2 linked regions of the Homo sapiens genome follow. The protein of the gene in region 1 purifies or fractionates together with the protein of each later gene. This does not show direct contact. Each region holds a gene or a part of one and is shown on either strand. Other genes may lie near its edges.

Region 1 (4,085 bases):
ATATATGTTATATATAACCATAGTTAGTGACTTATTTGGGCTCAATTCCCTGTGACTGCTTTCAGAAACAAACAGGTAATTTTCATATCACTAAATGTTCAATATGCCCAAATGAATCTATTATTCTTTTAAAATATTTAATATTTTTTATAAGTATGTTCTTCAGGCTGGCAGTGCAGATAGAAAAGTAAAATCCAATTTCGACAATAAGGTAACTTCACTCCTCCCTCACCAAAAAATTAAAAAAAAAAAAAAAAAAAAAAAGCCTTATGTCAGCAAAGGGCAGATTTTTTTAGTACATATGGTTCCTAGAAAAGTAAATGACTAGTTTCATATCTAGAAAATATTTTATCCCCTTGCTGTTAGGATTTAACAAAGAAGTTCAATATCAGCTGAAAAAGGTAGAACAAAACTATGAGCCATCCAAATGAGCAAATCATGATCTGTCCTTTTTGACACCTACTGGAGTAGGGCATATGCTGGGATTGGGGAATATTTCAATTTAGATATGCTCAGCCACTCTGTTTTCCTTTCACATTCTAACCCCCTTGTGTTATAAGGCTGGCAACAGCTCTAAGAATGTGGAGAATGTAAACAGCCTTTTATTGTCCGAAGGGATGGCAGCGTAAGGAATGTGTGCTTATCAACAGGGCTGCAGCTCCCTACCTCACTTACCATGATAAAGTGCTCCAGGAGAAAAACATTACAACCCAAGCACAATCCCAAAATGGATTAGAATTTGACATAAGCTTTTTTAAAAGCAAATCCATCAGTCCATGCTGTAATATTAGAATCTAGCTCTTAAGGAGAGCATATAATCCCTTCAAGATGTATTTCCTATTCCTTACTGACTATGGCGGTGTGGAAAAAAAAAATATCTAACATTTCCAATATAGTAGCTGGGAGAAGAACTTTTCCCCGACACGTGCCCAAATATATTTTCTCATCTTTAAGAGCCTATCACACTGCTTACGGAGCAGATACACAGTTCATATTTATTAAATGCAAAATTAATGAACTAAGATTCGTGAAGATATTCTGAAGACCCCACATAAACACCTGATTTCCCCAGGCTTTTCCTTACACACACCATACAAATGCTGCTTTGTTAGATCACCTTTTATTAGAATCCAGACTAAAAAATTTTAAAGCAAGGGATACTAAAGATTAATGTGGCATATATTTTGGATTCATAATGCCTAAGATGTAAAATGTATTTTAACATGGAGTATTGTAGATAGCCAGTATGTGATGGCTCATTCAAGGATATTTGGGCATATCATTGCATTTTCTTCTTGATGCCATTGAAGAGTTTCTGAGTTAACGCTGTGCAGGTGAAGCTAATCTCCACCGTAACAAGCATGGACCACGGGCATCTCAGAGGTCTCTCCACCTTTTAGAGTTCCTTCCACCCTCAGAACTTGCAAAGTGCCTCTGCCTTAACAATATCATACATATCATAAACTTTCAAAGTTACTTGATTTTCCCCCTAATAGGAAAAGAAAGAGACAAAGAGAACGAGAGAGAGAGCGAGCGAGAGAGAAGAGACTGTCATCTTCTAAGTGCTTGGGCAAAGTCTTAAGTATGAGGACCAAAGAAACTATGGCATCAGGAGAAAGCCCTCTTAATAGCACCCTAACAAGGCAAGAGCTAAGTGACCAGAAGAAATCCATCACAGATGCTGACCCAGCCAAAGCACTCCCCTTCTGTAATTTTACTTTAAAAGTTTCTTCTTGAAGATCTTACTTTGGTTTTCCCTCAACTATAATTAGCCATGCATATAGAACATAGGCGTATATCAGGAGGAGGAGAGCGTGGCGCCTCGCGGGAAGAGAGAAGAGAGTGACAACGCGAACCCCAAACCACATTTTAATACGTTTCTTATTCCTCAGCGCCTCCGAGCCACCCAGACCAGGCGGGCGGTCTCCCTGAAAAGACAGCTTCGAGATGCCCGAGAGGGGGCTCCTGCGCGGAGCTGGGCATGAAAGTTATATCTTGTGTCCCCAGCTGGCAGAAAGCCCCATCCCAGTCCCTAGCGCCAGACGGAAAACGAAGAGAAATCCAAGCTGTCCCCCAAATCCGTATTTTGCCTAAGTTTTCTCCCAGCAAGGCGCCACTACCTGGCTCTGAGAACGAGGATGCATGCACTATGCTGTGCTTTGGGAGAAGTGTCTGTGTGCATCTGGGCAAAACACCACGTGAAAAATAAACACCACCAAGCCTCTCAAACTGTGAACAGGAGGAAGGTCTTTCTGCCCCTTCTCATCCTATCAATTTACTTTCCTTCCTCTCCTTGACCGCTTATCAATAAACCGCTTCCTTCTCCCGGACCTACTTCCCGGCCACCTTCTGCCTACTTTACCCCAGCGCTCAAGTCCCAACCCGTGCTAAGCCCCTGAGTCGCCTGTAGATCCCGTCTATTCCGTTCTTCAATTCTTCCCTTTCGACCTCTAAGGCAACCCAAAACTCCTTGCCCTCCGCGCGCCCCCAACCCCACTTCCCAAGCAGGCCCAGGCTGGGCTCCAAGTCAGCCGCCTGCGCGGTTTTCCCGCCGAAACGCGTCCCCGGCGTGTGGGACGGCGCGCGGGCCGGGCACTCACCAGCTGCAGCAAGCCAGGGACCACCACGAGGGGCAGCGGCCGCAGGCGCATGGTGCCGGCTGGCGCGGCTTTTCACGAGCTGCGCGCCCTCGCCTGCCTCTCGCGCATCTCCACTTCGCGGGGCAGGACTGAGGACGCCAGGGACACAGCGCGGCGCTTCCCTCCCGGAATCCGAGCGCTGCGCCGTGCCGCGCAGCTCTGGCCGGGTGGGCGGGCAGGGAAGGGGGAGGGTGGGCGGACCGGAGGTGCCTCTCCCGGCCCCCCGCGCGCCCCTCCTCGGAGGGGGCCGGCAAAGAGCCTGCGGGGCAGCTCGAGCTCCGGCACGCGGCGGGGGGCTTCAGTCGCGCCTTGGACTCTCCCGCTTGGCCGGGCTTGGGGTGAGCGCGTGGGGCGCCTGCGGGAGGGAGGCGGCGGCTCGGGCGCTTGGGTGATGGGTTCAGTGCGAGGCTGCCCTCCAGATCCGATCCCGCCGGGCGGATGCCTGGCCGAGCTGAGCACGCCTGGCCAGCCGGTGCCCCAGAGCCCCGAGAGGCCGGGTGCCTCCTCCCACCCCCGCCCAGCAGAAGGCCGGTCCGAGAGGCTCCACTGTGCCAAGCGCCCTGCCAACTGACTGGCTCTCGCTTTGGCTGGGGAGATTGGGGATGAGGGGAAGAAAAGGTTCTCCCTGGGTGGCTGCAAGAAAGAGTGCGCCCGCCTGGAGAGCGCCCAGAGAGTTTAGGAGGGGAAGGCGATTGCAGAGTCCTGGGGCGGGGCGTGGGGAGCTGCGAACGGAAAAGGCTGGGGCGGGGAGGTGAGGCTGGAGCCCAGGACGCCCTGGGAGAGTGCCCTACTCTGCCGCAGCGCCAAGCTCGCAGAGCCGCGGGTAAGGGGTACAAAGTGCGCCTGGTGCGGCTGGAAGGATTTCTGGGGTTGGGGAGTAATGGGGACCTCGAGGGACCAGGAGCAGAACTGTGAGAAACGGAGCTAGGTGATGTCTGGTTTACTCCGGTTTGGGGATGGTATAGACAGCTAGGTGTCCTGAAGACAGACAAAGTTGCTCCCAGACCTTCTGCCCGGGCTTTGGAGAAGCAGAATAAAGGCAGGATACCCCACCACAGCCTCCGACTTCAGAAATATTGGAGAGGGGTATCTTTGCGGACGGGCGAAGGTGCAAACCTGATGCCTGTGAGCCTCGACCTCCGTGTTAACAACTCGCCATTGGAGAGATCCTTAACCTTTTACTATCTTTGTGCTGGACACTCGAGTGGAAAAATCAAAGGCAATGGGGCTCACAGACCTGCACTGTTTTTACGGTAGATCAGAGTTTGGGCGTCATTCGTCACTCCTTTATTGAACAGGTGGGAAACCTAAGGTCCAGAGAGATACATTCACTTCTCCAAGGATGAGACTTTAGGCAGTTGCTCCGACAGAATACCCAAGGCGAGAATGCTTCTTACATCTAGAAACGCAAAGCTCTTAGAGAAGAAAACCATGTTGAAGCAAGGG
Region 2 (3,500 bases), on another chromosome or scaffold:
CCCCAATCAAGTGTTTTACTTTGGAAATGACAGGAGATCCTTATTAAAAGTCATGCTTCTTGGATAGAGATGTGGCAGCTTGCATGTATATGATGGCACAGAAGACAAGCTGCCTTTCGTTAAAAGCAATAGAGGAAATCAATTTTGGCAGAAAATACTCCAGACTGTGAAGTAAAGACTGAAGGAAAGAACTGAAGAGCATCTCACTTATAGCTGATTGGAGATTCAGTCAATCTATTTAATAAATGATTATAATCTCTTATGAGCTGTAGGTAGTTTAGGTACACAAGTTAAAAAGTAAGAAGACTTGTTTGAGCATGAATATAGAATTACAAGCTGTTTATAATGCATCTCAAACAACAGGAAAACAAGTGCAATGAATTTCAAACTAAAAACACAAATTAATCCCTGAAAAGCAGCCACCTGTATAAGTCACTGTGTAAGTGAAATGACATATTGTGTGAGACATAAATGTGGAGAGATGATTGGAGACAATTCAGGGTCATTTCTGCAGGGAATAACAACCACATTCATAAAGATTTTTTTATATTTTAGAAGCTAAATTCCTGATTATTTTCCCATGTCCTTGCTATTCACTATCATAAGAAAAGAGGAGCAATTTGAATTTGTTGAAGCAGTGAAAAAAAAAAAAGGAAATATTTTGAGTAAAATGCAGACCTGATCTTACACTTTGCATTTCTATCCTTTTTTCCCCCTGTTCAAAGCATTTAGGTCAGGTTAAAAAAAAAAAAAAAAGAAAAGAAAAAAGGATCCCAAAATAGGAAATATTCTCAAAGAACTTGCAGTTTGTTCATTTAAACCAACTAGATTACAAAAACCACTAATAAAATTTGTCAATAATTTGATTATTATAATGCATCTAAGATACGTATTTGAGAAACAGACAATTTAGGGTAAAAAAATGAGTGGGAAAGTACTTTTTTCTTTTGATGAAAAAATTAAGAGAATCTGCTCACTTGTAAGTCAAATGGCAGCATCGGCAACTGGAATAAATAATTAACCTTACATTTTACCTACAGGAAAGGGTCAGCTAATTCTAGATTTCCGGTGTAGAACACTAGAATTTCCTTGTTAACGCTTAGTCAAGGGCATAAAAATCCCAGGACGCTGTTTCAATAATCGATGGGCCGACAAATGTCAATACTTCAGTTACCCATCATTGAAGGAAAAAATGACAAACATTAGTGGCGAGCCTTCATTTAGGAGATTTAGCCAAGTAAAACGTCTAAAATATCCTATACAAATGTTAAACTACAGGGGATGGGGTGTGGAAGCAAAAGCAGAAAGTGTACATATCTTGGGAATAATTTAAATAACTTCCTCTTCTATTTTAAACGAATCTACTAGGATTGTGCATATGCACATCTCACTGATTCCACTGGTTGCAAATATATTTTCAGAGGTCAAATTCGTCAGTCTTTAAGTCCCAAGCCTTGTAATAAAATGATACCATGTGATAACAACTGGAATGCAGTCATATTATGTTCTTTTGTTTGGCAATAAAAAACAATAAAACATTTTAAATAAAACCCTTCAGGTTATTGCCTCAGAATCTGTTGAAGTAGAACAGGCTTTTCTCTCTCCCATTCTCTCTTTCTCAAACAAAGTCTGTAAAAACATGTTTAATATTTAGAAAATACATAACCATTCTCCAAAGACAGACACATGCTTTCAATTATACATACAGGTAATTATTAACTGTCATCTTTAATCTTGTTTCCTAAGAATTCTTTGTACATGATTTAGCCTTTTAGAAGTAAAAGTCATTTCCCATTCCATTGGACAGCACCATTAATTAGAGTACAGGCTAGTTCATCCAAAGTTTAGTAACTTACCCGTATTCACCCAGTACATTACATTTCAGATAAGATGGCCTGTGTATTTTGATGTGAACACATCAGCACATATTAGGTCATTTGGCATGGTAGGAGGGGGGTGAGGGGATGTGGGCTAGGGTGGGCAGGTGCGTGATATTGCTAGTATGCTTATACCTGTAACTACTGGTTCCTTGCTTTTTAGTTTTTACCACATAATGTGCTGTCAATTTAGGTTCTACTTATGAGTCACCCCATGTCTTAGAATGTATTTTAAATATAAGGTTTTGCATATTTGCATTCTATGAATAATGTATAAGCAGGAAGAAATCCAATTGGCAAAAGCACACCACTTCTGGGATAATTTATAAATCCAGAAAATTGTCTATTTGGATTTAATAATTTTTCTTATGGATGTGGAAAATATTAGCACCCATACAAATTTACCTATGTATTTAGAGCTTCTAACTGAGACCATCCTCATGTCCCTGTCCTGTAACAAACACACATATATCTGTTTCATCTACACACTTAAATGTATCATTTTGTCTACTTTCCTGTTCTATAATATTGGATGTCCTTGCAAAACCTTATCTTTGATGCACATGGGATTAAAAACTGTCCTATGGAATGATGAGCTAGAGGGTGTTGGGAAATGAGAAATAAGATGGTAAGGAATATATTTATATATTTCCTCTAATTTCATATAGATCAGGGGAGCCTGTTGAGGAGTGTCAAATACTAATGGCTTATTCTCCTTGGATTTCAGATTCAAGGCCTCTTCCAGATGTAGCCCTGACTGGGAAGTGCACTCGTGAGTGTGATGAGTATGGCCACTCAGACTCCTGCTGGATGCCGGTCCGCACTTCTCCGGAGAGGAAGAAGAGCCAGCCTAAACTGTCCACTTTCATGCCTGTTGATGAACGAGGAAGCCAGGAAAAGCTGGCCAATGGGGAGGCCGCCATCATGGGTGACCGCAACAGAAACCTCCTGAACAAAAAGTTGACCTCATCCTATGAGACCTTCAGTGCAGCTAGTTTCAGCAAAAATGAGGAAGCCAACCCTGAGGATATTCCCCTTACAAAAACAGGGGAATATAAGCCATCTCCTGTCAATACTCTCACTAGAAGAGAAGTTTACCTGTAGGCTATAAAGGAGCAACAGCAAAGTTCTTTACATGTATGAAAAGGAGAATAAGGGGCAAAAACCTTACAAAGCAAAACGTTTAATCACAAAGAGGGGGCTACCAAAGAGACAAAGCTTTGCCTGCCACTTCTGCCTCCAGATCAGGCCTTTAGTGATACTGTTAGCCTGATTCTACTGTACAATGTAGAAACCATCCTTGTTACTTGCATGTCTAACCCCTTCACTGATTCCCAACACTCACTTTCTCTTCCCCACCCCTCTCCAAAAAAAAAAAAACAAAAAGAAAAGAAAAAAAAAGGGGGATAGTTGCAAGTTTCTTTCACAGTAACTGTACGAAGCCTGATTAGCAGAACACAACACACCCTCATTATCCCTAAGCTGAAGCATGATTTTAGTCACTTTGATTTTGTTCGAGTGTCATCTGGCTGGTCAAAAATAAGCAGGACAGATAAAATGTATTTCAGACATACCATCAGAAAATGGTTTATCACCATCAAAGGCAATCCTTTGAAAGTGATA

What was found.
Region 2: the proteins of NXPH2 (region 1) and PCDH7 purify together in Homo sapiens (affinity purification with mass spectrometry; 3 studies listed by BioGRID and IntAct, with this or other methods). This does not show direct contact.

The regions. Positions count from the first base shown.
Region 1 is NC_000002.12:138,777,591-138,781,675, forward strand, and holds the start of NXPH2 (neurexophilin-2 precursor), read right to left. Parts: upstream 2,801-4,085; 5' UTR 2,652-2,800; coding exon 2,601-2,651; intron 1-2,600. UniProt on the Homo sapiens protein: May be signaling molecules that resemble neuropeptides and that act by binding to alpha-neurexins and possibly other receptors.
Region 2 is NC_000004.12:31,139,869-31,143,368, forward strand, and holds part of PCDH7 (protocadherin-7 isoform d precursor), read left to right. Parts: intron 1-2,604; coding exon 2,605-2,981; 3' UTR 2,982-3,500.